Linked DNA regions of Homo sapiens: regions 2, 3, 4, 5, 6 and 7 are each linked to region 1. The links come from fine-mapping of genetic effects on gene expression. A gene starts in region 1. Each other region holds a variant in brackets. All regions are shown on one strand. Distances are between the middles of the regions. Region 1 holds the start of SH3BP5 (SH3 domain binding protein 5). Region 2 overlaps SH3BP5 (SH3 domain binding protein 5). Region 3 overlaps SH3BP5 (SH3 domain binding protein 5). Region 4 overlaps SH3BP5 (SH3 domain binding protein 5). Region 5 has its middle 49 kb from the start of RBSN. Region 6 overlaps SH3BP5 (SH3 domain binding protein 5). Region 7 has its middle 40 kb from the start of METTL6.

What was found.
Region 2: its variant is fine-mapped to the expression of SH3BP5 in whole blood (TOPMed, PIP above 0.99).
Region 3: its variant is fine-mapped to the expression of SH3BP5 in whole blood (TOPMed, PIP above 0.99). The same link has a PIP of 0.9 or more in skeletal muscle.
Region 4: its variant is fine-mapped to the expression of SH3BP5 in whole blood (INTERVAL, PIP above 0.99).
Region 5: its variant is fine-mapped to the expression of SH3BP5 in whole blood (TOPMed, PIP 0.99).
Region 6: its variant is fine-mapped to the expression of SH3BP5 in whole blood (TOPMed, PIP above 0.99).
Region 7: its variant is fine-mapped to the expression of SH3BP5 in whole blood (INTERVAL, PIP above 0.99).

Annotation. Positions count from the first base shown.
Region 1 is chr3:15,330,568-15,334,633 of GRCh38, reverse strand. It overlaps SH3BP5 (SH3 domain binding protein 5), which reads left to right and starts at 2,048. Exons shown (of 9, transcript NM_004844.5): 1 at 2,048-2,363. The coding sequence starts at 2,226. RefSeq lists silencers at 1,940-2,339, 2,420-2,479.
Region 2 is chr3:15,291,716-15,295,781 of GRCh38, reverse strand. All of the region lies in intron 3 of SH3BP5 (SH3 domain binding protein 5), which reads left to right. Among named protein-coding and RNA genes, the nearest start is that of SH3BP5, 39 kb to the left of the region's middle. The variant G/A (reference allele first, on the strand shown) is at 2,392.
Region 3 is chr3:15,256,071-15,260,136 of GRCh38, reverse strand. SH3BP5 (SH3 domain binding protein 5) reads left to right here. Exons shown (of 9, transcript NM_004844.5): 6 at 334-376; 7 at 1,087-1,306; 8 at 3,024-3,284; 9 at 3,834-4,066. The coding sequence ends at 4,051. It overlaps SH3BP5-AS1 (SH3BP5 antisense RNA 1), which reads right to left. Exons shown (of 3, transcript NR_046084.1): 1 at 2,531-4,066; 2 at 1-1,503. Among named protein-coding and RNA genes, the nearest start is that of SH3BP5-AS1, 3.9 kb to the right of the region's middle. The variant G/C (reference allele first, on the strand shown) is at 2,032.
Region 4 is chr3:15,276,906-15,280,971 of GRCh38, reverse strand. All of the region lies in intron 3 of SH3BP5 (SH3 domain binding protein 5), which reads left to right. Among named protein-coding and RNA genes, the nearest start is that of SH3BP5-AS1, 25 kb to the right of the region's middle. The variant G/T (reference allele first, on the strand shown) is at 1,745.
Region 5 is chr3:15,146,133-15,150,198 of GRCh38, reverse strand. No RefSeq gene overlaps it. Among named protein-coding and RNA genes, the nearest start is that of RBSN, 49 kb to the right of the region's middle. The variant A/C (reference allele first, on the strand shown) is at 1,809.
Region 6 is chr3:15,267,437-15,271,502 of GRCh38, reverse strand. It overlaps SH3BP5 (SH3 domain binding protein 5), which reads left to right. Exons shown (of 9, transcript NM_004844.5): 4 at 1,626-1,790. Among named protein-coding and RNA genes, the nearest start is that of SH3BP5-AS1, 15 kb to the right of the region's middle. RefSeq lists enhancers at 1,626-1,925, 1,986-2,035, 1,103-2,302, 2,482-3,020, 3,021-3,560 and a silencer at 3,348-3,457. The variant T/C (reference allele first, on the strand shown) is at 1,685.
Region 7 is chr3:15,385,202-15,389,267 of GRCh38, reverse strand. It overlaps a transcript of METTL6 not described here. Among named protein-coding and RNA genes, the nearest start is that of METTL6, 40 kb to the left of the region's middle. The variant G/A (reference allele first, on the strand shown) is at 2,483.

The DNA of each region.
Region 1 (4,066 bases):
ACCTGCAATACCTAATACAATGCAAATATGTACATAGTTGTCATATACTGTATTTTTTTTTTTTCTAGAGAGCAAGGCAGTCTCGCTTTGTTGCCCAGGCTGGTCTGGAACTCCCGGCCTCCAGTGATCCTCCTTGCCTCAGCCTCCCAAAATGCTAGGATTACAGGTGTTAGCCACCACTCCTGGCCATGTATTTTTAAATATGCATTTTTTTAATTGTTGTGTTTTTTTCCCCCAAATATTTTCTATCTGTGGTTAGTTGAATTTACACATGTGGAACCTGAGAGGCTATGGAGGGTTGACTGTATATAGTACTGCCTGTGGTTTATTTATTTTTCTCATTTTATCTTTAGAAAGACTATTAGGATTAACACTATAGCTGGCCCAGATCTCCAAAAAATAAGACAACAAAAGTCTGAACTGATGTTCTTGAGCAGTTGGCCTATGTCTCATAGATGTATTTTGCTCTTGACCTAAGCTTAAGCAGGAATGTAGTTTGGAGTTTGCCATTTAGAATGGAGAGGATAGGGTTCTGCTAGCTGAGAAGCATTTATCATAGTCAGGGCTGACCCCAGAGTTCTGTTTATTTCAAACTCTGTCTCTCAGTTCATTCAGAGCTAGGATGTACCTGCAAAGTTGGAGGCTCAATTCCAAGCCACCAGAGAAGGTTGGTGGCTCCTGTGTTCCAAAGTGACCCCTATGGCTATCTTGTTCCTGGCTTCATCTATCATTGGAAAACCAAAAGCAACTATGTCTTTAGCAAGGAGCTTTGAAGCACCTCTCACAGAATTGCTGACTCATCCTTGATTTAAAGAGCAATGAACAGGTCTGACCTTTTTAGAAACAAACCATGGCACTACCTCCAGGAGACAGGACAAATTTCCTTTGACAGTGGACTACAGTGCCAGCGTGTATGGGGTGGTGCCTTGCCCAAGGAGTAACCCTCTAGCCTAGTTTCTGATAAAACCACCAGGAGCAGGACTATTTATTCATTTGAGAAGGGGTCTGGCTGTATTGTCCAGGCTGGTGTTGAACTCCTGGCCTCAAGTGATCCTTGTGTCCTGGCATCTCAAAGAGCTGGGATTACAGATACGAGCCACCACGTTGTGCCAGACCCAGGTTTTGTAAGGTGGCTTTGATGATAGGTTCTCAGAAAGAAGCTCCTTTCTCAAGCAAATTTGTCCTCCAAACTCAGAGCCGATGGGCTACAGGCCTCCGTGTAGGACATGTGCACGTTCTGCATTTCTCAAGGCAAGGAGACGTGAGCAGCCATGTGCTCATCTGCTTTGCCAAGGTCATCCTTTGCGTTCCCCTGACATCACAGTGGCCCTGACATTTCATAAAAGCACACACACGTGCCTCTTCAGTTTGGCCTTTTCGGATGCTGTGTCTGCCAGGCCAACTCTGTCTCCCTACTTGTTGATGGTGGGCAGAAAGTCTCACTAATTCATAAATTCTTGGCCAGAGTGTGCCCATCAACAGGGGTTACACTTGCCACCTCCTTAAATCCCAGCTCAATGCATTCTCCATGCTCCTGGCTATTCAGGTAGGACCGCCGCACCTCTGTGTTTCGGTATGGGGCTCGCCCAGAGAGGCCGCAGCCTTCGGCAATGCATCAGTGCACGGAACCTCCGCCATTCCCAAGGTTCGCTCAAGAGGATGAGTGTGCTTTGGGTATAGGGTTTCGGCAAGTCTTGGTCCTGAGGGCCAGGGTCACTGAGCGTAGGCTTCAGAAGGCGACTTCAGTGTGAAAACACCCACGCCTCCCTACCACACAAACAACGAGCCTCGGAGGAGGGCTGGAGGAGGGGACTCCCGAAAGCGGGAGGCTTGCGTTACGTAGTTGAGATATATCCGAGCTGCTAAGTTACAAGGGGGTGGGGGCTGTCCTATTTTGCCACCTTGGAGATGTGGAGGGAGCTGGGGTTTTGCGACGGAGACCTGGATAGCTGGGACTGGCGGCGGAACGCGAGGCCGGGGCGGGACGGGGGCGGAGCGGGCGCTGCGCTGACTGCCGCGGCAGAAAGGGGGCGGCCGCGCCCATTTCCTCTGCTCCGCCGCGGCCGGAGGTATCCGCATCGGCGAGCTGCGTCTCCCGGGTGTCGGCCCCGGCGGCTCCCCGACCGTGCCCGGCTGTGGCGAGGCGGCTCCAGCCCAGCCTGTGGCAGCCGCGACCCCCGGGGCGCTCCGGAGCCCACTGCGCGGCGCGCGTGCCGGCTGCCTGCATGGACGCGGCACTGAAGCGGAGCCGCTCGGAGGAGCCAGCCGAAATCCTGCCGCCTGCCCGGGACGAGGAGGAGGAGGAGGAAGAGGGGATGGAGCAGGGGCTGGAGGAGGAAGAAGAGGTGGATCCCCGGATCCAGGTAGGGCGCGCGGGGTCGCCCCGCATCCGGGCTTCGCGAGGGCTGCTACGGAGGTCGGTGTCTACGCGTACAGCCACTTCGCAGCCCCCAGTAACTGTGGTCCGGGGACTGGCGGCCACATAGGGTGGCAGGAGACGGTCTGTATGCTCCGTTTCATCGTCTCCACAATGAGGAGGCTACAGTGCCCGCGTGGATGCGGCCTGACTCTATTGCGGGGAGTCCCCCGCCGACCCGTAGCAGGATCGGGGTCGGTGCAGCGTGCCTGGTGGTTCGGGTGGATGTGCAACAAAGGGAAAAAGGGGGCGGGGGCGCCATGGTATCCTCGGGGGTACCCCTGCCCGGCCGCGGCACCGCGGGCATGGCACGGCGTCCAGGCTCTGCGAGGAGGTGTCGCCCGCGTGGGCGCCGGGCACCGTGGGCGGGTGGGCGTTGCCCTGCAGCGCGGGCTGGCACCGGTGCCCCGGGTGCAGAGTCCTCACTTGCCAAGGTGCCCGGCCTGAGCCGTTTTCCTTCTCTGATTGATTGTTAGCGAACTGAGCGGCTTATTGTCATCACTGGCTCAACGTTCTGCCTGGCTTGAAATTGCTTAAAACCCTGCTTTTCCTTGTTGTGAGGTTGGGCATGAAAAGAAATCGGGGACAACTGATGCGCAAAGCTGACGCGTGGAGGCGGCGAGGGGATTGGGCTGGCTGGCTGTGCCTCCATTTCCAAGAGAGATGATTAAAAAACAATTTCCAAGCCGAGATCTAGGAGTGACAGTTTCACCTCTTCACCCCTAAGCAAAAAGCAGAGCAAATCCCTTTCTAAGGCCCGTTTTTTTTCTACCTTTTCAATAAATCATTTTTTTAAAAAAATTGCTTTTAAGCATGCTCTGTAATTTCTGGATACCTAATTGGTTTTTTAGTGCACAGATCAATTTAAAAGCTCACTTAACTCAGTGGTTGGGGTTTAAATGAATTGTTTTGTCAGCTTAGCAAGATAAAGATCAGGTGGAAAAAAAATCCTTGCATTAGGAATGCTATTAATTAAAGTAATTGGTTTGGAATAAATCGTGTGTTACTGGTATGGGATTATGTTAGCAAGATCCTTTGTTTGCATAGTAATGATGAGTTAAGTTCATGTTGGATACTTTTTTTACAAAATGTCAGTTTGTAAATGTTTATTGAAAGGAATGGGATTAAAGCTAGTTTAAAACGTCCAGCTAAGTAGGTTGAATAATTGGCAGTGTGAAAAGATTTTCACCCTTTACAGAAAAATAATTCTGGTGAGTTAATACCAGAATTCTGCCCTTGATGATTTCACTGGGTTTATATTTTTGGCTTGGCCTTGCTTATTGTCTTTTATTGTTTTCTAAGCAAAGTTCTTGCTCAAGGCAGATGGTACTGTTTTGATTAGGCCATTAAACCATTTGTAACAGGTGGGGTTTACCTGAAGGCATGTACCTGGAATAGTTGACCTCTGACAAATTCCAAATGTCTCTGAAGACATTGTCAAAAGGGACACCCTCAAGAAAATGGTTTCAGAAATGCCGACATTCATTTGCTTTTCTAGTCAAGCCTCAACTGTTTGCCGTAAGAATTAATTCTGATTCTTCCCTTTTCCTGCAAATTGGGCTGGGGTAATTTTTCAGGTTATGGACTGAGTTATATTGGAAACAAAAGACGGATCCCTTAAGTCTTTTTTTCTCCCTCTTTTCTTCACCA
Region 2 (4,066 bases), 39 kb after region 1:
ACAAATCCAGCCATGTTTTCATCTTTTCCATAGCTTCGTCATGCACAGCGGATGTTACTTTAGCACTTACTTGAGTGAACTCATGTTCAGATTGGCAAATTTCCTCTTCCTTTTTCTGCATGTGTCGTTTTGTTGACTCATTAACACTGAACTCACAGCCAACAGTGGTATAACTTCTGCCTGAACGAAGCTCATCTAACGCAAGCATTTTCTCCATAAGGCGCATCACAGCCTTCTTGTACTTAGGAGCACTAGAAAGCACTTAATTGCTATACTTGGAGGCCAATTTATAGAGAAAAATCATCAACAAAAAGCACAAAAATGTCAAAAACACAGCACTAAAAGGACCGAGGAAAGGACACTTGTGTACAGTATGAGAGCCAAAACAAGAAGGCAGGGTGGCTTCTTGTTGGACATCAGCTAGAAACGTATGTATCAGGTAGCTCATTTTTTCACCACTCTGTGCATGTCGATGGATGGCCCCAAGAACACTGCAAGTGTTGATTTTGGGGTTACAAATAAAGCTTAGTAAGTAGGCAAATTCACAAATACGGAAGCTGTGAATAATGAGGACTGACTGTATTTGCCAAGAGCCACATGGAGAGGCTTATTTGTTAGTGCGCTGAACCATGTGGCTCTGATGTAGATGGCAAAGGGAAGAAGCTAGGGAGTGTGTCACTGTGTGTGTGTGTGTTGGCGGGAGATGCTGCCCATCAGGAAGGCTTGAGGGGAAAGGCTTGAGGGGAAGGACACACTGTGCACACTCCGAAGCACAAGAGGAAGGGTGGCTGGTAAAGACAGAAGAGCAGAGATCTGAGGGGAGGGGTCAGTGCAGATATGAACTTGGGTAAGGAAGCCAGAGCCTTGGAAAGAGAGGCTTAGGGGAGCTAAAGGACCAGTCAGGAAAGGAACAGCATGGACAGCTGAGGGTGCCTTACGCCTCAGCCTACCCTTCAGACTTGGTTGAGAAGCTGCAAAGTAGCCATGGTAGGCTCTTGAGTTAGGGGGCTTAGGTTGTGTTTGAGAAATTGATGTCCTTACATTAATGGCAGCTCCATTTTTTGCCATTTTTTGAGCGCTAATGATGTATTAGGTGCCACACACACTGCTCTGTGCGGGGGCTGTCATTGTTTCCCTTTTGGCCTTATAGTACGAATGAGGAAACTAGTCTTGGAGCCCAAAGACTGGGCCTTTACATAAACCTTTCCGGTGTTGTGGCCTAATCTAAGAGAATGTGAAGGGAGACTGTAACAGACTTGGTTAATTATCTATCCAGAATGCAGGGAAAATGGGAGTCAGTGGTATGGCGGTGACAGTTTACTGGATGGAAGGGAGGAAGAAAGGAGGATGGAAGGGAGGAGGAAGAAGAGTAATTTCAACACTCTTTGTATACCAGGCACTTTCTAAGTGTTTTACATGCATGAGGGGGAGTTACGTAAACATGCGCGCGCACACACACACACACACACACACACACACACACACACACACTTACTTTTGCAGAAGAAGAAACTGGGGCTTAGAGTCTGTGTTCTCTTAAGGGGCTATCTGCAGCCCTGATTTGTTGAGGCTGTGCTAGGGGCCTGGGTTTGTGGTCATAGGTCTTTTATGTACATTATCTCATTTAATCCTTACAGCGAGTACTTTTTGCAAAGTGGTACTCTTTTCTTTTTCTTGTTTCTTTTCTTTTTTTTTTTTTTTTTTGAGATGGAGACTTGCTCTATCGCCCAGGCTGGAGTGCAGTGGCGTAATCTCGGCTCACTGCAACCTCTGCCTCCCAGGTTGAAGCGATTCTTCTGTCTCAGCCTCCCGAGTAGCTGAGACTACAGGTGCACACCACCACACCAGGCTAATTTTTGTATTTTTAGTAGAGACAGGATTTCGTCATGTTGGCCAGGCTGGTCTCTAACTCCTGACCTCAGATGATCCGCCTGCCTCGGCCTCCCAAAGTGCTGGGATTACAGGTGTGAGCCACTGCGTCCGGCCTGCAAGACGATATTATTTTCATCATACTGAGGGGGAATAATCACTGAGGCTTGGGGACTTTAACATCACAGACCTTGCGAGGACAGGAGTGAAGGTTTAAACCAAGTCTACCTGGTTCTGGCTGGTGCCTGGCACATAGGAGGCATTTATGACTATTTGCAAATCTGAAAGACACTCTGGCACATCTGAGGAGAATGGGCTTTTAGGACTAAAGGCAGTTTTTGAGCTCATTGGTGCAGTTATTTCCCTGCACACCCCTGCCTCTTCTTGGCTAGGGTAACTGAGAAGCTCTTGTTCCGAGAAGCTCTTGTTCCAAGAATCTGGAGTCCTTGGGAACTTTCCCCTCATGGTGCCCTGTTCCTGCTAGGACTTCAGTGTGGCTTTGTCATGCCTTCCTTCTTCCCC[G/A]TCACTTTATCTCTGCAGAGCCACTTGCCTGCCTGGGGGCAGTTCTTGCCACGGGACTTTGGGTGAGGAGGTCTGGCTCAGTGACGTTCTTCCCTGTGGCCCTGGTCACATTCCCCCTGGGTGGCCACAGGCCAGTTCCTGGGAACTGCGTCATTCCTGCTGCCCAAAGTAAGGGCACGTAGTGGAATGACAGGGCATCTGTCTCAAAGCAGAGTTCCTGGAGATTTATGGCAAGAACTGAGCATGGACTCTTAACTCTCCTTCGCCTGAAAGATCACATCCTGCCTGACAGTCTTGGCTGAAGATTCTGGGAAAGAAGCAGCTGCACTTTGGAAACTTGGAATCTTGAATTAGGATGGGGTCAGGAAGGAGATGTGTTGCAGCTTTTGACCCAGGTCAAAGGCTCCTGACACACACAAGTAGATTTTTGGGCTTCTGCCAGAAGGGTTGCACCTCCTGCTTGGCTGGCTCTGCCTCGGGCGTCTGGGGCTGGAGCAGGGAGAGTGTTGCTGATCTTGAGGTTTTCTTTTCTTTTTTCTTTTTAGATGGAATTTCGCTTTTGTTGCCCAGGCTGGGGTGCAATGGTGTGATCTCGGCTCACCACAACCTCCGCCTCCCGGATTCAAGCAATTCTCCTGCTTCAGCCTCCCGAGTAGCTGCGATTACAGGCATGCGCCACCACGCCCAGCTAATTTTGTATTTTTAGTAGAGATGGGGTTTCTCCATGTTGGTCAGGCTGGTCTCAAACTCTTGACCTCAGGTGATCCACCCACCTTGGCCTCCCAAAGTGCTGGGATTACAGGCATGAGCCACCGCGCCTGGCTTAGGTTTTCTTTTCTGGTGATGCCATGAACCATTTGCATTCAACCCCATTCTGTCTGGCAGGTGGCAGGAAGTCCGCGTGGGGGACTGGTTGCAGGCAGGTCTTAGCCAGGAAGCACTGGGCTGGAGGAGCTGCCCTCCATCACCTTGTTAGTTGGGAGGTTTGTCATGGGCAACTCCCTTTTTCTTATCTCCTTTGCTATTCACAGAGGCATGGCTGAGCCCCCCTTGGTGCTGCTGGGCAGGCAGTGTTCTCTGTGAAGCTAACAGGTGTGGTTTGTCACCACAGCATAGTGGTTAGAGGGGAAACAGGGTGTGGAGTTTGGTTCCCTGAAACCATGATGCTCTTCAGATGTTTCCTTCCTTCTTCTCAACTGTACTCTGCTTTCAGTAAAGTGATTGCATGGACATGGATAGCCCCTTCCCCTCTGTAAACCACAGGCATTCCCTGGCAAGAGTGGCAGAGTGATTAATTTTTCAGTGAAAGGAAATCAGAGCATAGGTTGTGTTTCTGCTACGAGTTTTGTCGACACAGGCTGGCCTTTTTATGTTGCCTGGTGACGAGGTTTGGGCCCCGGCTGTGCACTCTTGGTGCACCTTCTGTTCCTTTCCTGACTCAGAGGATGCCCCTGCTTTCCTTCCTTTCTTTTCTACTTCTTCCCCAGCCCTTCCAGTTGTGACTTCTATGAAAATCTACCCTGAAGAATCTGATGAAATTATTCATGCTGAGAAGTAAATGACTGATAAGACTTAGAGATTTATGGTCTCTGGGGCTTCAAGTGGTTCTGACTTACAAACATTCCCATAGCTTGGAATACCCTGCTTCCAACCTGGTGGGACTGCATATTCCCAA
Region 3 (4,066 bases), 74 kb after region 1:
GGGTATAACCTGTGAGGCTCTGAACAGCCTTCCCACAGAGGAGGAACATGAGCTAAGTTGCAGAGTCCCCAAGATATGTGTGTGTGGGTTCCCCGTGTCTTGAGATGGGCCTCCTGTTAATATAGCCCTGGGTGAGCCCAGTCGTTCCATCTGGTGTCTGTCAGTCTCCAGAGCTAGGAGCATCACTGACATGTCACGGCCTTGTTAAGAGTTTACTAAATATTGGAAGGACGACCTGGCCAGTGGTAGCTGATGCCTCTTGTTCATCTTGTGGAGTTGACTGTGGTCACTGTATTATATTACTCTGATGGCTTTCCTTCCTGTCTTCTGCAGGCCTTATTTTGAACTCAAGGCAAAGTACTATGTGCAGCTCGAGGTATGTGTAGCTTTGGGCTTCGTCACTGATGAGATTTTTCTGCACTCAAAGCTTCACTTTTCTGGGGTAGCAGAGTATCACATGGGCCACTTGCTATAAGGGGAAAGTGGAGAGACAGGCTTTACTGAGTTTTCAGACCTCAAAATTGTCTCGGTTGGGTCTTCAGTGGTCTCTGAACCTCTGTAACTGCCATTCAGTCACCTTCTCTGTTGTACTAGGCCAGTGGTTCTCACAGCATGCTCTTAGGACCAGCAGCATCAGCATCACCTGGAGACCTGATAGACCAGGTCCCACTCTAGACCGACTGAATTAGAAACTCTGAGGTTGGAGTCTAGTGAGCTGAGTCTTAACACCCAAGGGGATTTTGATGCAAGCTCAACTTTGAGAACCACTGTACTGGGAACCAGATGTCTAGACTGTGGGACTTTGGTGTGTCTGATGCCCATTTTTGCTTCCCTGATGGGGTTTGTTCCACCAGTGAGAGTTTTTGGATATTAGAGGTTGTCACCTGGATGGGATCTGGGGATGGTGGTGGCTGATTTTGTCTGGTGAATGAATAGCAGTTACAATGGTAATTAGGTCTTCAGTCATGTCTTGGAAAATTCCTTGAAGTAGAATGATGGGCAGAAAATGTACTTGAACCTGTCATTCAGAAAGCATCTTAAGGCTAGCAGGGTAGTCTTCACTTAGTCTCCTGTTCTCTTGATCAGCAACTGAAAAAGACTGTGGATGACCTGCAGGCCAAACTGACCCTGGCAAAAGGCGAGTACAAGATGGCCCTGAAGAACCTGGAGATGATCTCAGATGAGATCCACGAGCGGCGGCGCTCCAGTGCCATGGGGCCTCGGGGATGCGGTGTTGGTGCTGAGGGCAGCAGCACATCTGTGGAGGATCTGCCAGGGAGCAAACCTGAGCCTGATGCCATTTCTGGTAAGTCAGGGGCTCCACTGGGTATGTGGGGAGATATCAGACTGTGTGATTTGTTTCCCAAGGTCCTCACTTTCTCTGGCCATCAGTGAAAGGTCTCAGAGTTGGGCAGGCCTGAGGGCTATTTCTGGTGGGTTCCCATGTTTTATGGAACACTGTGTTCATTAAGAAGGTACTAAGTGTTCCTCAAAGTCAGGATTCTGTGGTCAAATAAATTGGGAAAATGTTACACCTTCACTCCTCTTTGAGAGTCAAAGTATACATTTGAACATTCAAGGCTGAGAAGTCCTGCAGGAAAGAAGAGCTGTAATCAGATTTGATTCAAAGCTACCTTTACATCATTACTAAGGCATGATGTGGGCAAGGGCCTAACTTTGTATTTCAGTTTCTTCACCTGTAAAATGGGGAGTATGACGCTATCTACTGTATACTATCCGTTGTGTAGGGTGGTGGTTCAGCTTACATGAATCAACCCCTGACACCCAAGAAGCACTCAGCAAATGGTGGCTCTTACTGACATCTGACCATAGAGACCTCTTTTCCCAGGGCCTCCCCCTGGAAAACTGATAGAAGTTTGACTTGGTTTCTGTCATGCTCATCAAGAAAACCCACCCAACGCTGTCTTTGCATACTTCCTTTCTTTTCCTTACCTGTGCAATAATCCCTGTCGGCTCTTTCCCAAGCTCCTTCCTCAGGAGTTAATTCCTTCAACAAATATTTAAGTACTA[G/C]GTTCAAGGTAAAGGAAAAGGAAACTATCATTTGAACAACTACTATGTATGAGGTACTTTAATATATACATCATCTCAAACCCTGCATGGAGAGGATCATGAAGCTTACAGAGGTAAAGTAACTTGACCAAGGTCACACAGCAAGTAGTGGAGTTAGGGATTCAATTCAGGTCTGAGCCCATTTTCTGTCCCCAACATTACAGTATTTATCATTTATAAGAAACCTTTATGGAATGCTACAAGGCTGTTTTTAAAGAGAAAGGGGGGGAAAAATGGAGTAGGAAAGTTCTAATAAGGAGTGGGATTGTGGGCAGGCTGAGGGAAAACCGCTAAAGGCCAAAGAGGCTTTGAAACCATGGGAATAACATGTGTCTGGGCCTTGTTACTTTGGTCTACCAAATAATGTGGCTACAGAGCATTGTAAAGGATTTCTGTTCTTTTGCAGCAAATGGTGATGTGGGTAGCCTTTGAGTGTGTTCTTTATGAGATCAGAAGTTACCTGGAGATAACAAAGGTCCCAACAGATGTTCCATGCTGGCCTGTTTCTTCTAGCAGCTCTTGCTTCTATTGCCCTAAGAAAGAAGCCTGAGTCCAGCTGGCTTTGTTTGGGATATGTTACAGAGGACTAGAACCTCTTCCTGTGCACATGAGGATGTATTTGGGGGACTGAGGTGGAGTAAAGGTCCTAATTTGTGGCTGAATTAATCTTCCATTTTTAGGTGGTGTCTGGTGACACTGATTTCTTGGCAGGGTTATAAGGTTATTGGAAGGGCGCTTAATATCCATGGGATCCTGCTGCCAGCTGCTTCCCTTCCAGCTGCTTTAGAGGCTGGTCATTCAGGCTTGGGAAGTCACATTCCTTCATTAGGCACTCACAGAGGTAGAGACTCTTTAGTCCCCCATGCTGTGTCTAGCTGCCTGCCAGCAGCAAGCACTTGTGGTGTTTGAGGAGGTGACAGAACCCATGTGACTGGTGTTCTCTCTCAACTTAGTGGCCTCGGAGGCCTTTGAAGATGACAGCTGTAGCAACTTTGTGTCTGAAGATGACTCGGAAACCCAGTCCGTGTCCAGCTTTAGTTCAGGACCAACAAGCCCGTCTGAGATGCCTGACCAGTTCCCTGCGGTTGTGAGGCCTGGCAGCCTGGATCTGCCCAGCCCTGTGTCCCTGTCAGAGTTTGGGATGATGTTCCCAGTGTTGGGCCCTCGAAGTGAATGCAGCGGGGCCTCCTCCCCTGAATGTGAAGTAGAACGAGGTGAGTAGCAGCCTTCTCACCCCGTCCCAGATGCCACACTGCCTCTGTAGCCTGACTGTTGTGCCATTCCATACCTCTGCCAGGTCTCAGGGCCCCCATGCTGCATTACCAGGTCTCTGTGGTTGTGCTGTCAGTATTGATCACTGAGGTTGTTTCCAAGTGCTGTTCTGGGGGGGCTCCTGGCTCCACTCAGCTTCTATAAAGTAGAGCTTAGGTCCTATGTCTCACATCAGAACAGTCTCCTTGGCAAGCACATAGTAGAGAGGTTTGTTTCTCAGCAATAAAGTGAATATGGCAAATTTCATCTCTATAGCTAAGGAATATATAAAACATCACAAGGAATAAAAGCAGTAAATGATTATGTACTGAGAACCTCTCTGATAGGCACGGTAGGTAACAGTGGGACTTCTACAGGGCTGAGTTAGCTGACTGGTTTGAGCTCAAGTGACTTAGAATTGTCAATACTCACTTTTGATAATCTTTGTATTTCTATAGGAGACAGGGCAGAATTGTCAATACTCACTTTTGATAATCCTTGTATTTCTATAGGAGACAGGGCAGAAGGGGCAGAGAATAAAACAAGTGACAAAGCCAACAACAACCGGGGCCTCAGCAGTAGCAGTGGCAGTGGTGGCAGCAGTAAGAGCCAAAGCAGCACCTCCCCTGAGGGCCAGGCCTTGGAGAACCGGATGAAGCAGCTCTCCCTACAGTGCTCAAAGGGAAGAGATGGAATTATTGCTGACATAAAAATGGTGCAGATTGGCTGATTCATCCTGGGCCCT
Region 4 (4,066 bases), 54 kb after region 1:
GGCTCTCCACTCCCTCACAATGTCAGGCAATGACCAGGTTCGTGGCCTGGGTCTGCATCGTGCATCCCAGTGGAGGATGAAATAGCTTCCCTGATTGGTGTGTGTGTGTCTTAAGAGATGCTGGTGTTTTGTGGGTCCTGGGAATGACAGTGTAGGTGGGGGACAAAGGCAGAGATGGAAGAGAATTGTGAGTGGACGTGCAGGGAGGAAGATACAGCCCTGCTGAGCTCAGGGAAACCCACCGCAGTGGAGGAGCTCTGTGAGTTTGCACACATTTGAAGAATTAAGAGGTGGGGCATGTTGCGTGTGTGTTTTGGGGACAGAGAGAGTGCGAGAGTGTGATGTCGGGGATGGCTGTGTGGCTGGCTGGCAGGGAAGGCAGCTTGGATTGGGGCTGATAGAATACCCAGGCTTGATGCTTTGAGCAGGCCAATTTATTTGTTAGGCTCTGAAGTTTTCTCCTAGAAAATAAAACAATTGGTCTACATTGTCTCCGTCTCCCTGAGCGCAAAGACCCTGTTATTTGGTTCTGTGGGTGAGGAGTCTAGGTTTGGTGGTGGTACCCTGGGGTGCTGTTGTGGGGTTTTTTTCCTTTTGGGTACTGCTGTCTACCCCCAGCTCAGGCCCCTGCCTTGCACCTGGCCAGTCGATTCTCTAGCCGGTGGCACACTGCTAGAGCATGAAGGTGAGAGCGGGAGGAGGATGAGGAGGAATGTGGGCGCACCCTTCTGGCTAGGGTGGGCAGGAAGAGCCTGGCATCTATGGGGTTGCTGCAGCAACAGGAAGGATTTGATTTGGGATGCGTCGTTCCCGGAGGCCTGCTGTGTGTAGCTGGCAGGCCCTGTAAGCTGCTTGTAATTGTGAAAGGATGGAAGTGTGGGGACAGGTCATAGACATCAGTCGGCTAACTAGCCGAGGCACACTGACTCAGGCTAAGTAGTGCCCTGTGAAAACATAAGGCCCAAGACCATCCTCCTGCCAGCTTTTACATGAATTAGGGAGATTCTGTAGGGTGACAAATAGTGCCAGCTTAAGGCAGAGGAACCGGTGCTTCCTGAGTGCAATGGGAAGCCCTCTGGGTGCTGTGTCTGAACATGCGGTGTCCAGAGGTGAACTGCAGGCTGGTGTCTAGTACTGAAGATAAGCAGAGGTGGGCTCAGTGCTTGATGAACCTTCCCTGATGCCCCCAACCGAAACCCTTGAGTCAGACTCACCCCTGGTTAGTCTGGATGACTGTTGGCAGTAGGGATTGTCTTGCCAGAAACTGGGGTCAAAACTTTCAAATATATGCAAAATAGACAACAGTGTAATGGAACCTTGGATGTTTGTCATCCAGCTTCTATTACCAACCTTGGGGCAATCCTGTTTCATCTTTACCCCCACCCCCAGCTCTCCCTTCTTACTCCTAGCTGTATTTTGAAGCAAGTAGTAGCTTTTACATTTTTATTTTTTAAAAGTTCCCCTTTAAGCTCAGGCTGGAACAAAACCGTTTGACCTTGATATTTCTAACCCTGCAAAGCTCTCTTGCTGCTCCGACATATTAAAGGGCTCTGTAGTCTGTCTATGGTACAGCTGCAGGTGCTGTCTCTCTTAAGACTGCCCGTGGTTTTCTCATTTCTCTAAGGGTAGATACATACCATAGATTTCTTGTTTACTTTGTAATATACATTGTTGGGAGAAATAACACTATTAAACTGATAATGGCTCAGACTGTACATGGTAACCTTTGGGACCGAGAAAAAAT[G/T]ATGTCCCCTATGTTTGACAAATTTTTAGATCTTTTTTTTTGTTTGTTTCTTTTCCCGAGACAGAGTTTCGCTCTTGTTGCCTAGGCTGGAATGCAGTGGTGCGATCTCGGCTCACTGCAACCTCCACCTCCCAGGTTCCAATGATTCTACTGCCTCAGCCCCCTGAGTAGCTGGGATTATAGGTGCCTGCCACCAGGCCCAGCTAATTTTTGTATTTTTATTAGAGATGGGGTTTCGCCATGTTGGCCAAGCTGGTCTTGAACTCCTGACCTCAGGTGATCTGCCCGCCTCAGCCTCCCAAAGTGCTAGGATTACAGGCATGAGTTACCACGCCTCACCAAATTTTTAGATCTTTAAGAAACTGATTCAGGAAAATTTTGATAGAAATAATGAAAAACTCCGTGCCACAAGCTACATTTAGTAAAATTTGATATGGATGAAACTGTTCATTCAATCAAATCTATTTGAAATAGAAAGGAATCAATCCTCAGGAGAATAATTTTGACTAAATAAAAATGAAAAATTAGAAGCACCTCGGTGTGAAAAATAATCAAGGAACTAAATGGGCTTAATGGAATTCTCTCCAGAAGATGTTTTCAAAGGAAACTTTGTTCTGAGATAATTTGGATTAAAATATATGCCAGACATCCTCAGGGGTGAAACGGTGCTATCAGAATGGCCAGTTTCTATCTCTGGTCCTCTTCAATGAAGCATCATTCAGGAGTTGAAGGGGGAGTGCAGGATGGGCAGCTTGCAGGTTGGAAGGACTCAGGCAGTCCATGAACTGCCGGTCCCTGGGATTCCTCAGAATATAGGCAGAAAACCACGGCTTTAATAAAGTTGAGAACAGACATCCTTGTCTCTTGTCCATTTTGATGTTTGTCCTGCCCATCCCTCCCTCACTGAGACCCCCCAGGGGTTATTGACCATGTTTTCAAAGGTTTTTGATCTTCCTCGGTTGGGTTGGAAAGGCCTCTGATGCTTTTCTTCATGAGCTTCTAGCCGGGGGAGGGGTTCTTTCCAGCAGTGCCTGTGACATTCACTGTAAAGAGGCAAGGACAAAACAGTATCAAGTTAAAAAGGACAGAGGCTTCCTACCAAGTGGTTGCCCCCATCGAGCAGGGGCCTTGCCCCGGGCCCTGTGGGGGTGAGATTCCTCCAGCGAAGCACGAGGGGTAGAAGCTGGCCGACCTGTCATTTGGCTGGGGCTTCTCTTTCCTCCGGGTCCTGCCACCCCGTGCCTGCAGGGTCACTGCTCACCTCACGCAGAGCCTGCTTCGCCCTGGGCTGGTATCTTTCCAACTTTCTCTAGAAGAAAGTGGGGCATTCCTTCCTCCCAATCCATGTCCAGGCATCCAGGGGGTTCTGGAAGCTTCTTTTGCTCCATCATTGCTTTGGCCAAGTGCTGGGGGGGTGTATGCATACTGAGCCCAACCATTCCCAAGTAAACCCCAGAGTCCTTTTGGATTTTAAGTACTAAGACATTTAGAAAGGGGAGTGGGGAAGGCAGTAGGAGGCCTGTGCCTCTAGGTGGGGAAATTTTGCCTGCCCCGTGCCTCTCTGCATCTCATTCATGCTCCTGGCTCCCCTGTGAATGGGGTCCAAGTTGTTCCTCAGAGCAGGTGAGACTGTGTGGTGGGGGGTAGGAGGCTAAGCTCAGGCAGGCATGAGGGCTTTCAGGATCAGCCTCTCTAGACCCCATTTTCGGGACTCTGGTTGGGGATGAGCTCAGCTCCTACAGCAGCAGGCCTTCTCCCCACTTCTCCTCTGCTCCTCGTTGGCGGTCTCTGCAAATCTTATACCCTCCAAACCTCCCTGCCCATCCCGACCTGTGTGACGGTGGCCACTGTGTCCTTGATTTGTGTGGAGAGCTAAGGCTGCGCTGCCTTGACTGGTACTTCTTTGTCAGGAGTTTGCAGCACCGGCAAGTGGTGTTTAATAGAAGTTTAGAATGAGGCTGGGTGTGGTGGCTCACCCCTGTAATCCCAGCACTTTGGGAGGCTGAGGCAGGCGGATCACCTAAGGTCAGGAGTTCAGCCTGGCCAACATGGTGAAACCCCGTTGTATCTACTAAAAAACCCTGTTTCGTATCTACTAAAAATACAAAAATTAGCTGGGCATGGTGGCGGGCACCTGTAATCCCAGCTACTTGGGAGGCTGAGGCAGGAGAATCATTTGAACCCAGGAGGTGGAGATTGCAGTGAGCCGAGATCGCACCATTGCACTCCAGCCTGGGTGGCAAGAGCAAAACTCCATCTCAAGAAAAAAAAAAAATTTAGAATGAAAGCTCTGGGTTAGGCCTGTCGGGTTATTTTGAGACT
Region 5 (4,066 bases), 180 kb after region 1:
TTTAGGGTGTTGGAAAATAAGCAGAAATCAGAGGAAAATGTAGCTGCTGAGACCCATGTAAGCTCATCTATTTCTTGTTTTTTTGTTTTTTGTTTTGAGATGGAGTCACATTTCTTTACGTTTACAAGATAATTGCTCAACTTTTCTATTTATTTTTCCTCAGTAAGCACAGTCTTAGGTGTTAGAAATTCATTCAGGAACATGATTGATGGATTTTTGCTATTTTATTTAGAAATAATGAAAATATTCCTTCCCATTTTTATTATGTTTTAAAATGTCCTTTAAGTGTTATTTTATTTTTTCTGCCTGGTCTGTGGTTCAATGAGCCCAGTCAATGTTAGGAGAATGACATAAGGTCTATCCCACCCATTAGGACCATTGACTCCAATTTCAGACAAACAGGATAAAGCAAATTCTTGTCTGTCTGGAGTGAAAGATGGTTTTGTCCCCCTTCTTTACTGTGCCAACATTATAAAACCAAGATATTTTGTAAAGACCCTTTAGTACAGGGCTAGAAATATAGTGCAAGTGACATTTATAATTTTAAATTTTATAGCAGCTATCTTAAAGAAAGTAAAAAGAAACAGGTGAAGTTAATTTTAATAATATATTTTATTTATCTCAATATATCTAAAATATTATCATTTCATTAGTAATTAATATAAAAATTAATAAGACATCTTACTCTTTCTATACACTATCTTCTAAATGTTACTTTACACTGAAGGCACATCTCAGTTTGGACCAGACACATTTCAAGTGCTCAATAGCCCCTGTATTTGACAGAACAACTCTAGTAGGTCTTAGTTTCTTTTTAATGCATTTCTCACAAGAGAAGGCGACTTCACAATGTGTTGTCCTCTGAATGGCTTTTAATGTTGTTGGCTTGAAAAGCTGGTCAGATTGGTCTACTCAACAGCAGAGACATCTCTGTGCAGATGTAGACCAGTTTCAGAATGGGGCCCATAAATTTGGAAGTTCAAGTTGAAAGTGTACAAGAACAAATAACTAAATCATTGTTCCAGTTACCCATAACTTACAGTCCCACTGTCCCCCACAGCTCTCACAACTTAGTTGTGTAAAATAATCATTTTATTATGTTCACAGACTCCGTGGGTAGGGACACTGAAAAAGAAGCAAAAGAGGGGCCTCTTTCTTCCATGCCTGGGGTCTCAGCTGGGTTGACTAGTCTCAGACTAGACCGTCTGGGCTCTAGAAGCAGGAGTTGGAGGACCCACTGCCCCTTCTCACATGTCTGCTGCTCTGGCGTCTTAGCTGGAACTGCACAAGGACAGGTGGAGCTGGAACCGACAGGAAGTACTCCAGCAGGGAGGGTCTGTCCTGAGAGTGAGTGCTCCAAGAGGCCAAGGCTGAAGCTGCAAGGCTCATGACCCAGCCTCAGAAGTCAGGCTGTAACATGGCTTTCTCATGCTGTTGGTTGCAAGCCAGTCACTAAGTCCAGACCAGATTCAAGAGGAGGAGACTTTGACTCCTCCCCAGCATGGAGGAGGGGCATGGTCACAGAGCATGTGGAATGGGAGATATTGTTTTCTGGCTTTGGAAAATGCAATCTGTCAGACTCCCAAATTCTAGATATTTAAAAAATATATATGTTATGAATGTGTGGTTAAATAATAACTTACGCATTGGTTACACAGCAAAACCTTACTTATGGAACAAAGTCAGATTTTCTAAGGTCACAAAAAATATTTACATAACTTTATAGTAACAAAAACATCTAACATTTGTTGACAGTTTTATATATGCCAGACACAGGGCTAAACATTCTTAGTTTCCTCTCTCTCTCT[A/C]TATATATATATGTAATAACATATATAAATATAATAATAACATATATACATATTATTATTATGTGTATATATGTATATATGTTATTATTATTATTCCCATTTGTCATAAAATAGCCAAGCATTTGAAAACCTTTTAGTGGTGTTAGTCTTTCCATTAAATCATAGCTATTATTTATAGCTTTAAGCAAATACTGTGAGTAGATGAGAGACCAATTTTTAAACATTATAGAGCTTAATATTTGAATTAGAAATACTGTTTTCCACAGCAGCTACACCATTTTACATTCCCACCAACAGTGGACAAAGGTTCCAATTTCTCCACATCCTTGCCAACACTTGCTATTTTCCTTTTTTTTTTTTTTAAATAGTAGTCATGCCGAGTGGGTTTATTTTTAGTTTTGTTAAAAAATAAAATTTTCCTTGATGTCTCTGCTTTTATCAAGAACATTTGTTTTGTATATATCAACTATTTTCTAATAAACACAACAACCAATTATTCACAACTGATAGCACTATATATTGCAATATAGTACAGTAGATATTTTAGGATCGCATTTTCCAGATGAAGCTTAAACACCACACATTGAAGCTAAAAATACAAATAGACTAGGAAGAACGGAGGAAAACAGACATTTATTTAGCATCTACTGTGTGTGAAGCCCTGCATTAGGCATTTTGTATGTATTATCACATTTAATCTTCATCACAACCCTGCTAGTATGTGTTAATACTTTCGTTCTATAGATGCAAAAGTAGAAACTCAGAGAGAGTAAGTGACTTGTTAAGGTTGGAGAGGGTTGGAGATGTGTCCAAAACTGTCTATCTGATGCCAGAACCTATGCTTTTCTTGTTATCTATTGCTAAGTATAAAACACCTCATTTGTTCAATCCATATACTTTGTGAATTATTTCCAATACAGCATCTTATACATTCAATACAACAATCCTATGAGATGACTAGAGTCAGTATTATCTAGATTCACATTTATAAATGGTGAAAATTGTGATTCATGGCATCTTGTGATCTTGTGCTTTTGTCTTAGCTCACACAACAGGCTGGAAGCAGAACTAGGACTCAAATACACGCCCTTTCATTCTAGATCCATAGTTCTTCTCATTTTCTCATGTCTTTTTACTGTCCTGAATAGCATATGTAGTTATCAACCTAATTAAGTCAAAGTTAGATGTTACAAATGTAGATTGTCTTTTGATTAAAGCTCATGTGACGTGCAGTACTTTCCAATTAATATTTAATCAACTTGGCAAAAGGCATGATATCTACCATTCCCTTCCTAATCTAACACCTAGATGAAAAGGTTATATTTATTAATATAATTCAGTAAGTCATTCTTCAAATCCTGGTTGGATGTCTATTGTATGATATCAGATGCTGTGTTTGGGGCTAGAAATGCAGCAATAAAGAAATGAGACATTGTCTTTGTCTCCATGAACCTCACAATATAGCAGGAGATTCTGATGTGTAAAACCACATTTCACTATGATATGTGCTGATTTGTATCCTCCAAATACTACAAGGAGACTGAAGGGACAGTTGGGTGGGGTCAACAGAAAAAGCTTCTCAGGAGAGGAGGTGACACAGGACTTATACCTTAGGAATGGGTAAGAATTCACCTGGAAGAGAAAGGGTCAAATAATGGTTTATTCCTTGAGGGACCACAACGAAACCTCCATCCAATTTCAGCTGACTGAAGAAAATGTTCAGACAGACCTTCTGTTTTACTTGAATTCTGAAGTTTTGCCCATAAGGCTTAACTGAATTGATTAAAAAATGCAGATAGTTTGGGTTTGTGTGGTTTGGAGTCATCTCTATGAGCAGTTGATGGATTAACAATCTGAGTGCCTTGCAGGTGACCTGAGCAGGATTTTGAGGTTGTAAAAGCAACGGTAAGGACCAAGTCATATTTTGGTCATTTTGAAGGTCCTTATTGCTGGCTTGAATTGGCTGTAGCTTTGCCCCAGCCACTTTGCCCCAACCACTTTGACCCAACCTGGAGCTCAAAAAACATGTGTTGTATGAAATCAAGGTTTAAGGGATGTAGGGCTGTGCAGGACGTGCCTTGTTAACAAAATGTTTGCAAGCAATATACTTGGTAAAAGTCATCCCCATTCTCTAGTCTCAATAAACCAGGGGCACAATGCACTGTGGAAAGCCGCAGGGAGTCCTGTCCTTGAAAGCTGGGTATTGTCCAAGGTTTCTCCCCATGTGATAGTCTGAAAAGTGGCCTCGTGGGATGAGA
Region 6 (4,066 bases), 63 kb after region 1:
TTTCGCCATGTTGGCCAGACTGGTCTCAAACTCCTGACCTTGTGATCCACCTGCCTCAGCCTCCCAAAGTGCTGGGATTACAGGTTTGAGCCACCGTGCCCAGCCTCTGTGAATTTAATCTTTAAATTTTATTTATTTAAGAAGCAGGGGCTCATTGTGTTACCCAGGTTGGAGTGCAGCGGCATAATTGTATTTCACTGTAACCTCAAGCGGTCTCCTGCCTCAAGCTCCCAAGGAGTGGGGAATACAGCCATGTGCCACCATGCTCGGATAATTTTTTAATTTTTTCCAGAAGTAGGGTCTTGCTATGTTTCCCAGGCTGGTCTTGAATACCTGGCCTCAAGTGGTCCTCCTGCCTTGGCCCCCCAAAGTGCTGGAATAGAGGTGGGATCCATTGCACCCAGCTGAAATTAATTTTAATAATATATTTAATTTAATTTAATATATCCAAAATATTATTTCATCATATAATAAAAATTATTGAGATATTTAACATTCTTTTTTTTTTGTACTAAGTCTTTAAGATTAGGGATGTCTTACATTCAATTGGGATTAATCACTTTTTTTTTTTTTTTTTGAGATGGAGTCTCACTCTGTCACCCAGGCTGGAGTGCAGTGGTGCAATCTCGGCTCACTGCAGCCTCTGCCTCTTGAGTTCAAGTGATTCTTCTGCCTCAGCCTCCCAAGTAGCTGGGATTATAGGTGCCCACCACCATGCCTGGCTAATTTTTGTGTTTTTAGTAGAGATGGGGTTTCACCATGTTGACCAGGCTGGTCTTTAATTCCTGACCTCAAGTGATCCGCCTGCCTCCCATAGTGCTGGGATTACAGGTGTGAGCCACTGCACCTGGCTGGGATTAATCACATTTTGAACAATCAGTAGACACATGTAGTGGGGGCAGCTCTAGACGTGGTGGTCAGCTACAGTTGGTATTGGTTCTCCCACCTGATGCTCCTTGAAAGCAGGGACCGTGTTGTGTTAATTAATTAGGTCCTTCTCTTTGCCTGCCTGGTGCCATACTTGGCCTGTCGCTGGTGTCAGTGGGTGTGAGTTGAGTGGGAGACTGTCTGGCAGAGTGACAGTGCTGGGCTGGAACTCATACTGGCTGGAGTCTGGCACAGCTCTGCATCTAGTCAGCTGTGTGATCTCAGGAAAGGCTGTGTCCTCTCAGCTAAGGTCCCCCTTCTATAGAGTGAAGTCTTTGGACCATGATCTCTGGGGGCCTTCCTGGTTCTGACTTGCCATGAATTGAGCCACAGATCTGGGCAGGGAAGGTGACAGGCCTCGAGTGAGGCAGAGCTTCTGAGAAAGGCTGTGGGGTTGGCTGTACCTGTCCCACGATGGGCTGGTTTGCCATGTCAGGTTCTGGCCAAGGGCTGATGTGTTTATCTCATCCATTGGGCCCAGAACTGTGGAAATTGTTCGCTCACTGATTTGTTGCTCACTCCCCCATCAGGGGTCCATTGCCCTGTCTGGCATCTATGAGGACCTGTGGGTGCCAGGAGTGAAGAGGCAGAGATGAGCTTGTCCTGGTCCTTGGGATGCTTATTTTTTGAAAGGTAAAATGGACCATGGGGAGCCCCTGCCATTTTCTGAGGCCTCATGAGGATTCTTTCTCACACAGGCTCAGCTGGAAGCTCAGAAAGCCACGCAGGACTTCCAGAGGGCCACAGAGGTGCTCCG[T/C]GCCGCCAAGGAGACCATCTCCCTGGCCGAGCAGCGGCTGCTGGAGGATGACAAGCGGCAGTTCGACTCCGCCTGGCAGGAGATGCTGAATCACGCCACTCAGAGGGTATGAGTCATGGCCGGGTGTGCTGTGGGGGTGTGCGCGTGCATGCGCGCTGGCTTCCCCTGAGCGGAGGTAACAGACTCGACTCCCAGGCATGTTGCCTGAAAACACCCTGAAAATCACAGGTTGTCATCTCCGTATGATCTCTTGGCTGCGCTTGGTACGAAGCCAGTGCTCCAGAATGAGTCACAGTGTCTCTCCGTGACAGCGAGAGCTGCTCCTTCCCTTATGTTGCTTGAGGTTTGTCTGGTTTGGGTCATCCCCAGGGGGTCTTGACTGGACTCAGGCTTCCAGAGGGACGAGGTTTTCCAGGGTTTGCTCCCATGGAACCCCAGCAATACTGGCTGGGTTTCGAATCTGTGATGGGGAGACCTTGATGAACAGCCCTAAATGGGGGCTGCACTTCGGGTATGTGCTGTCGGAGGAAGGCAGGGGTCATGGCGGATTAGACCAGAATCAGGTGTGTACTTACGACAGGCCTTCTGGGCTGGGATTCAGGGAGTTGACAGGCACAGAGGAAGCGGACTGTGTGTGATCCTTACTCACAGCTTGGCTTGCTGGGTTTTATGTCATTATATTGGGTTCTTTACTGGCTCTCATGACCACCTCTCTGACTGCGTTACTCAGAGCCAGAAATGGTGTGCCTTAGTCTGTACAGGCCAAGACAAAATACTAAACAAAATACCATAAACAGGGTAGTTGGTAAACAATAGAAATTTATTTTTCACAGCTCTGGAGGATGAGAAGTGCATTGGTAGGTAGGACATTGGTAGATTCAGTGTCTCATGAGGGCCTGTTTCTTGGTTCACAGATGACCATCTTTTCCATGTCCTAACACGGTGGAAGGGGTACATGAGCTTATAAGGTCACTAATCTCATTCATGATGGTTCTACCCTCATTACCTCATCACTTCCCAAAGGCCCTATCTCCAGATACCCTCACACTGGGGATCAGTTTCAACATAAGAATTTTGGGAGGACACAAATGTTCAGACCATAGCAGCTAGGGACAGTTCTTGGCTCAGCAGTACTTGGTTACCCCTGCCTAACTCTATCGGGTTTCTTAGAAGTCACGCAGAATGTTCCTGGATACCTCTTCCCCCTTCCAGGCTTGGCTCCTGGGCTGCCCAGGCTCATGTTCCTGGTATCCCCCCACACCAGCCTGGGTCCATTGTGCCCCTCTGCATTCTCTGTCTAGATTCCCAGCGCCTGGAAAACGAGTGTAGGGCTGGTTTGCTGCAGGGTGGGTGGGTGAGCTGACCTGTGGCTTCAGCAGCTCCAATAAGACCCTGGACGGCGCGGGTACGGGGTTGCAAGAGGTCTTGGTGACTCCTTGAGAAAGCCGTCTGGGGGACTGGATTAGAAAAGTCAGCAGGTTAATGCCAATAGGATTTCCCTTTTAAATGTCACCTGCCACAGTGGCTCAAGTCCTGGGGGATCTGATAATTAAAGATGGCCTTGTGCTTCCTTAAATAGAAAGCTTGGCACACAAATGACTTCAAGAGTCAAATCCGCGTTGACTTTACGCACCTCTCCCTGCAGCCTGAGACTCTCGGCTGAGCTTGGCTTTGTGTGGCCTTGCGCCTCCTGCCCCCTAGTGGGCGTGATGCTCACAGAGCTAGACGTGGGCTAGAAACAACTTTTCTGGGTCATCTCGAGAAAAATGGAAGGGGTGGCTGGAAATCTTGGAAGTTCACAAGCCAAAGCCCGATAGATATGAAAAGGACAAAATGTAAGGTAGCTTCTTCCAAGAAATTAGCTGAAGGGCCACTTTTCCTTTTTGCCCTTCTTCCACCCCAGCTGGAGACCCATGTCAGCCTATAAGCAAGCATTTCAGAAGTCATTTAATCTGTTGTTTAAAGATAAACAAACCATGCTTCTGCTTTGTGTATCTCTCATTTTTAAGTCCCAGGGCCCCAGTGGATAGTGGGTGGCCTCCCAAGGAGTGGCATCCCCAGACCTCCACACTGTATAACTCAGGGCACCGTTCATACCACAGACTTTGGGAATAGCGCTTTTTGGAGTTGTGCAGTGCAAGACCTGTGGGGCTATACAAGATGGCCCTGTACTCCTGAGGTCATGAGGGCTTCATAGGGCCCTGGGAGGGCCAGCTGATATGTGCCTTCTCTGTGGCCACTGAAGGGAAGGGCCCATTTGGTTTTCTTGGGCTTGGGGGCAACCTCTGCAGATTGGCAGGTGTTCCGGGTCACATGCCAGGATTTCCACCTTTGAGCTGATATTCCTCTTCCCAGATCCCTTCACAGTTGCATAGGCTGGAA
Region 7 (4,066 bases), 55 kb before region 1:
CCAAAGAGCACTTTGGGGAGCCAAAGTGGGAGGATTGCTTGAGGGCAGGAGTTCGAGACCAGCCTGGGAAATGTAGCACAACCTACAACAAAAAACTTAGAAAAAAAAAAAAGGCCAGGTGTGGTGCCTCATGCGTGTAATCCCAGCACTTTGGGAGGCTGAGCAGGAAGGATTGTTTGAGCCCAAGAGTTTGAGACAAGCCTGGGCAACACCGTGAGACTCCATCTCTATAAAAAAAAAATTAGCTGGGCATGGTGGCATATGCCTATAGTCACAGCTACTTAGGAGGCTGAGGCAGGAGTGAAACCACCACTGCAAAATTATAACTGAGACAGTGAAAGAGATCTGACTGAACCAACTCTATCTTCCTTCTAACCTCCGAGCTGTATTTGTTCATTCCTGAGTGTAGGCTGAACTAACTTTGGGAGAAAAGTAGTTTATAATTTAAAACTTAGTTTATAGTTTAAAACAAAGATGGCAACAGCCCTTTCCCAAAACAAACGCCCTTCTTGCCTGGGGACTAGACAGCCTTTGTAGGACTAAGAAACTAGCCACAAGATTAGAAATTATGGTTTAGGAGTCATACAGCTGGATGCTACAAGATTTTGGGCCTCCTTAAACTGCTCCTAAGATCAGTGCTCAGATGTTCTGCAGACCCTGCACTTGATGGATCAACTGGCACCACCCAGATGGATAAACTGGCTCATCTGATCTTGTGGCTCCCACCCAGGAACTGACTTAGTGCAAGAAGACAGCTTCAGCTTCTTATGATTTTATCTCTGACCTGATCAATCAGCACTCCTGGTTCACTGGCTTTCCCCTACTCACCAAGTTGTCCTTAAAAACTCTCATTTCCTGGCCAGGTGCAGTGGCTCACACTTGTAATCCCAGCACTTTGGGAGGCCGAGGCGGGCGAATCACTTGAGGCCAGGAGTTTGAGACCAGCCTGGACAACATGGCAAAATCCCGTCTCTGCTAAAAATACAAAAATTTGCTGGGCATGGTGGCATGTGCCTGTAATCCCAGCTACTCAGTAGGCTGAGGCAGGAGAATCACTTGAACCCAGGAGGCGGAGGTTGCAGTGAGTGGAGATTGCGCCATTGCACTCCAGCCTGGGCGACAAGAGCGAAACTCCATCTCAAAAACAACAACAACAACAACAACAACAACAACAACAAAACTCTTATTTCCAAATACTGAGGGAGACTTTTTTGAGTAATCATAAAACTCTGGTCTCCCGCACAGCTGGTCTGTGTGAATTACTCTTTGTCTACTGCAGTTCCCCTGTCTTGATAAATTGGCTCTGTCTAGGCAGCAGGCAAGGTGAACCCATGGGTGGTTACAAGAGGATCACATGAGCCCAGTAGGTCAAGGCTGCAGTGAGCTGTGACCACACCATTGCACTCCAGCCTTTGGGACAGAGCAAGATCCTGTCTCAAAAAAAAAAAAAATCTTTTTTTCAAAGAGAACGATTTACAAGCTAATCTCTGTTCCCTGATCCATTCATTCTCCCTAGCAATCGTTTATTGTACCTCAACAGAATTACCTATATTCCCCATCTCCTCACTCCCCTCTCAAATAAGGCTATATAAGTATTTGGGCCCCACTGGGATATTGAGTGATCACTCTGATTCTCCCCTGTGTACACATTAATAAGTTTTGATGCCTTTTTCCTACTAATCTGCATTTTGTGAGTTGATTTTTCAGTAAACCTTCAGAGGACAAAGGGGAAGTTTTTCCCTTGGCCCCTACTGTCAGAGGCATTTGAACCAAAGTGAATAGGAGCTGGGTAAAATAAAGCTGAGACCTACTGGGCTGCATTCCCAGGCAGTTAGGCATTCTTAGTCACAGGATGAGATAGGAGGTTGGCACAAGATACAGGTCACAAAGACCTTACTGATAAAACAGGATACAGTAAAGAAGCTGGCCAAAACCTGCCAAATCCAAGATGGTAATGAAAGTGACCTCTGGTCATCCTCACTGTTCATTATGTTAGAATCGGTAGTTAGGCAGACATGAGCAGGGCAGGGGAGGGCCCTGTCTCCAGGAATGTCAGGTGATCATCAGATGATGGTCAGGCAGTTGTTAAACTGTCTCTCTAAAATAACAATTGGTTGTAGCCAGTGCCAGAGAAAGACAATCTCCCAATAGATAGAAAACACCTGAAACTAACTGGGCACCATGGCTCATGCTTGTAATCCCAGCACTTTGGGAGGCTGAGGCAGGTGGATCACCTGAGGTCAGGAGTTCAAGACCAGCCTGGGCAACATGGTGAGAACCACCCCCCATCTCTGCTAAAAATACAAAATTAGCCGGGCGTAGTGGTGCATGCCTGTAATCCCAGCTACTCAGGAGGCAAGGCTGGAGAATCGCTTGAACCTGGGAGGCAGAGGTTTCAGTGAGCTGAGATTGCACCATTGTACTCCAGCCTGAGTGACAAGAGTGAAACTCTGTCTCAAAAAAAAAAAGAAAAGGAAACACC[G/A]AAAACTGGTAATCAGCAGCTTCCTGGTAAGATCTTTGGAGTTGGGCAAGTGGACTAAGGCACGTTCACTAAGAGGCAAAACAGCAGAGTTTAATGGGTGTATGACCTTCCTCTGGGAACACTTGACTGGTAATGGAAACACACCTCAACTTAGCATGTGTACAACTTCAGTAAACATACTGCACATACACACAGCCCACCCCAAGGGGACAATTAAGGGAAGAGAAGCAGAAACCCTGGAACCATGCCCATGTATAAAACCTCAAGTCAAGGGCTGAAAAGGGCACTTGGATCTCTCAAGTCACCCACTTGGCCCTCTTCCAAGTGGACTTTGCTTCCTTTCATTCCTGCTCTAAAACTTTTTAATAAACTCTCATTCCTGCTCTAAAAGTTGTCTCAATCTCTCCCTCTGCCTTAAACCTGCTTCTGCCCCTTGGCTGAATTCTGTCCTCCAAGGAAGCAGGCATCTAGTTGCTGCAGCCCCATGTGGCTTTGCTGCTGGTAACAATTATATGCTAGCTATAATGCATTAGCATGCTAAAAGACACTCCCACCAGCACCATGACAATTTACAAATGCCATGGCAGTGCCTGGAAGTTACCCTACATATTCTAAAAAGGGGAGGAACCCTCAGTTCTGGAAATTGCCCACCCTTTGCCAGAAAACTCATGAATAATCCACCCCATATGTAGCATATAAGCAAGAAATAACCATAAGTTTACTCATAGAGCAGCCCATGCCTCTGCTCTGCCTATGGAGGAGCCATTCTTTTGTTTCTTTTCTTCTCTAATAAACTTGCTTTCACTTTGCAGACTTGTCCCAAATTCTTTTCTCGTGCAAGGTCCAAGAACCCTCTCCTGGGGTCTGGATTGGGATCCCTTTCTGGTAACACTACAATTCTAAGAGCTCTTTTTTATTGGTTCACCTACAGGAATAAACTGAGGCAAAATTAATGTAAGCAGAGAGTTTATTTGGGCCAAATTTGAGGGCTACAGCCCAGGAGACACAGATTCAAGTTAAGTTGCCCTGAATATATGCTGTGATTAGCAGCACTTACAAGTGGATTTTTTGGTTTTTGTTTTTGTTTTTTTGGAGACAGGGTCTTGTTATGTTGACCAGGCTGGTCTTGAACTCTTGGCTTCAAGCAGTCAACAAGTGGGGTTTTTTTGTTCGTTCGTTTGTTTGTTTTAGATGGAATCTTGCTCTGTCACCCAGGCTGGAGTGCAGTGGCACAATCTTGGCTCACTGCAACCTCTGCCTCCCGAGTTCAAGCAATTCTCCTGCCTCAGCCTCCCTAGTAGCTGGAATTACAGGCGTGCACCACCACGCGCAGCTATGTTTTGTATTTTTAGTAGAGACAGGTTTTCCCCATGTTGGCCAGGCTGGTCTCAAACTCCTGACCTCAGATGATCCGCCCACCTCGGCCTCCCAAAGCGCTGAGATTACAGGTGTGAGCCACTGCGCCTGGCCAACAAGTGGGTTTTTAAAGGAAAAAAGAAGGGGCAGTTCCTAAATTGAACATAAGCTACTAATTGGCATATGTTGTTCTTTGTATCACAAATTCCAGGAACATGAAGATAATGG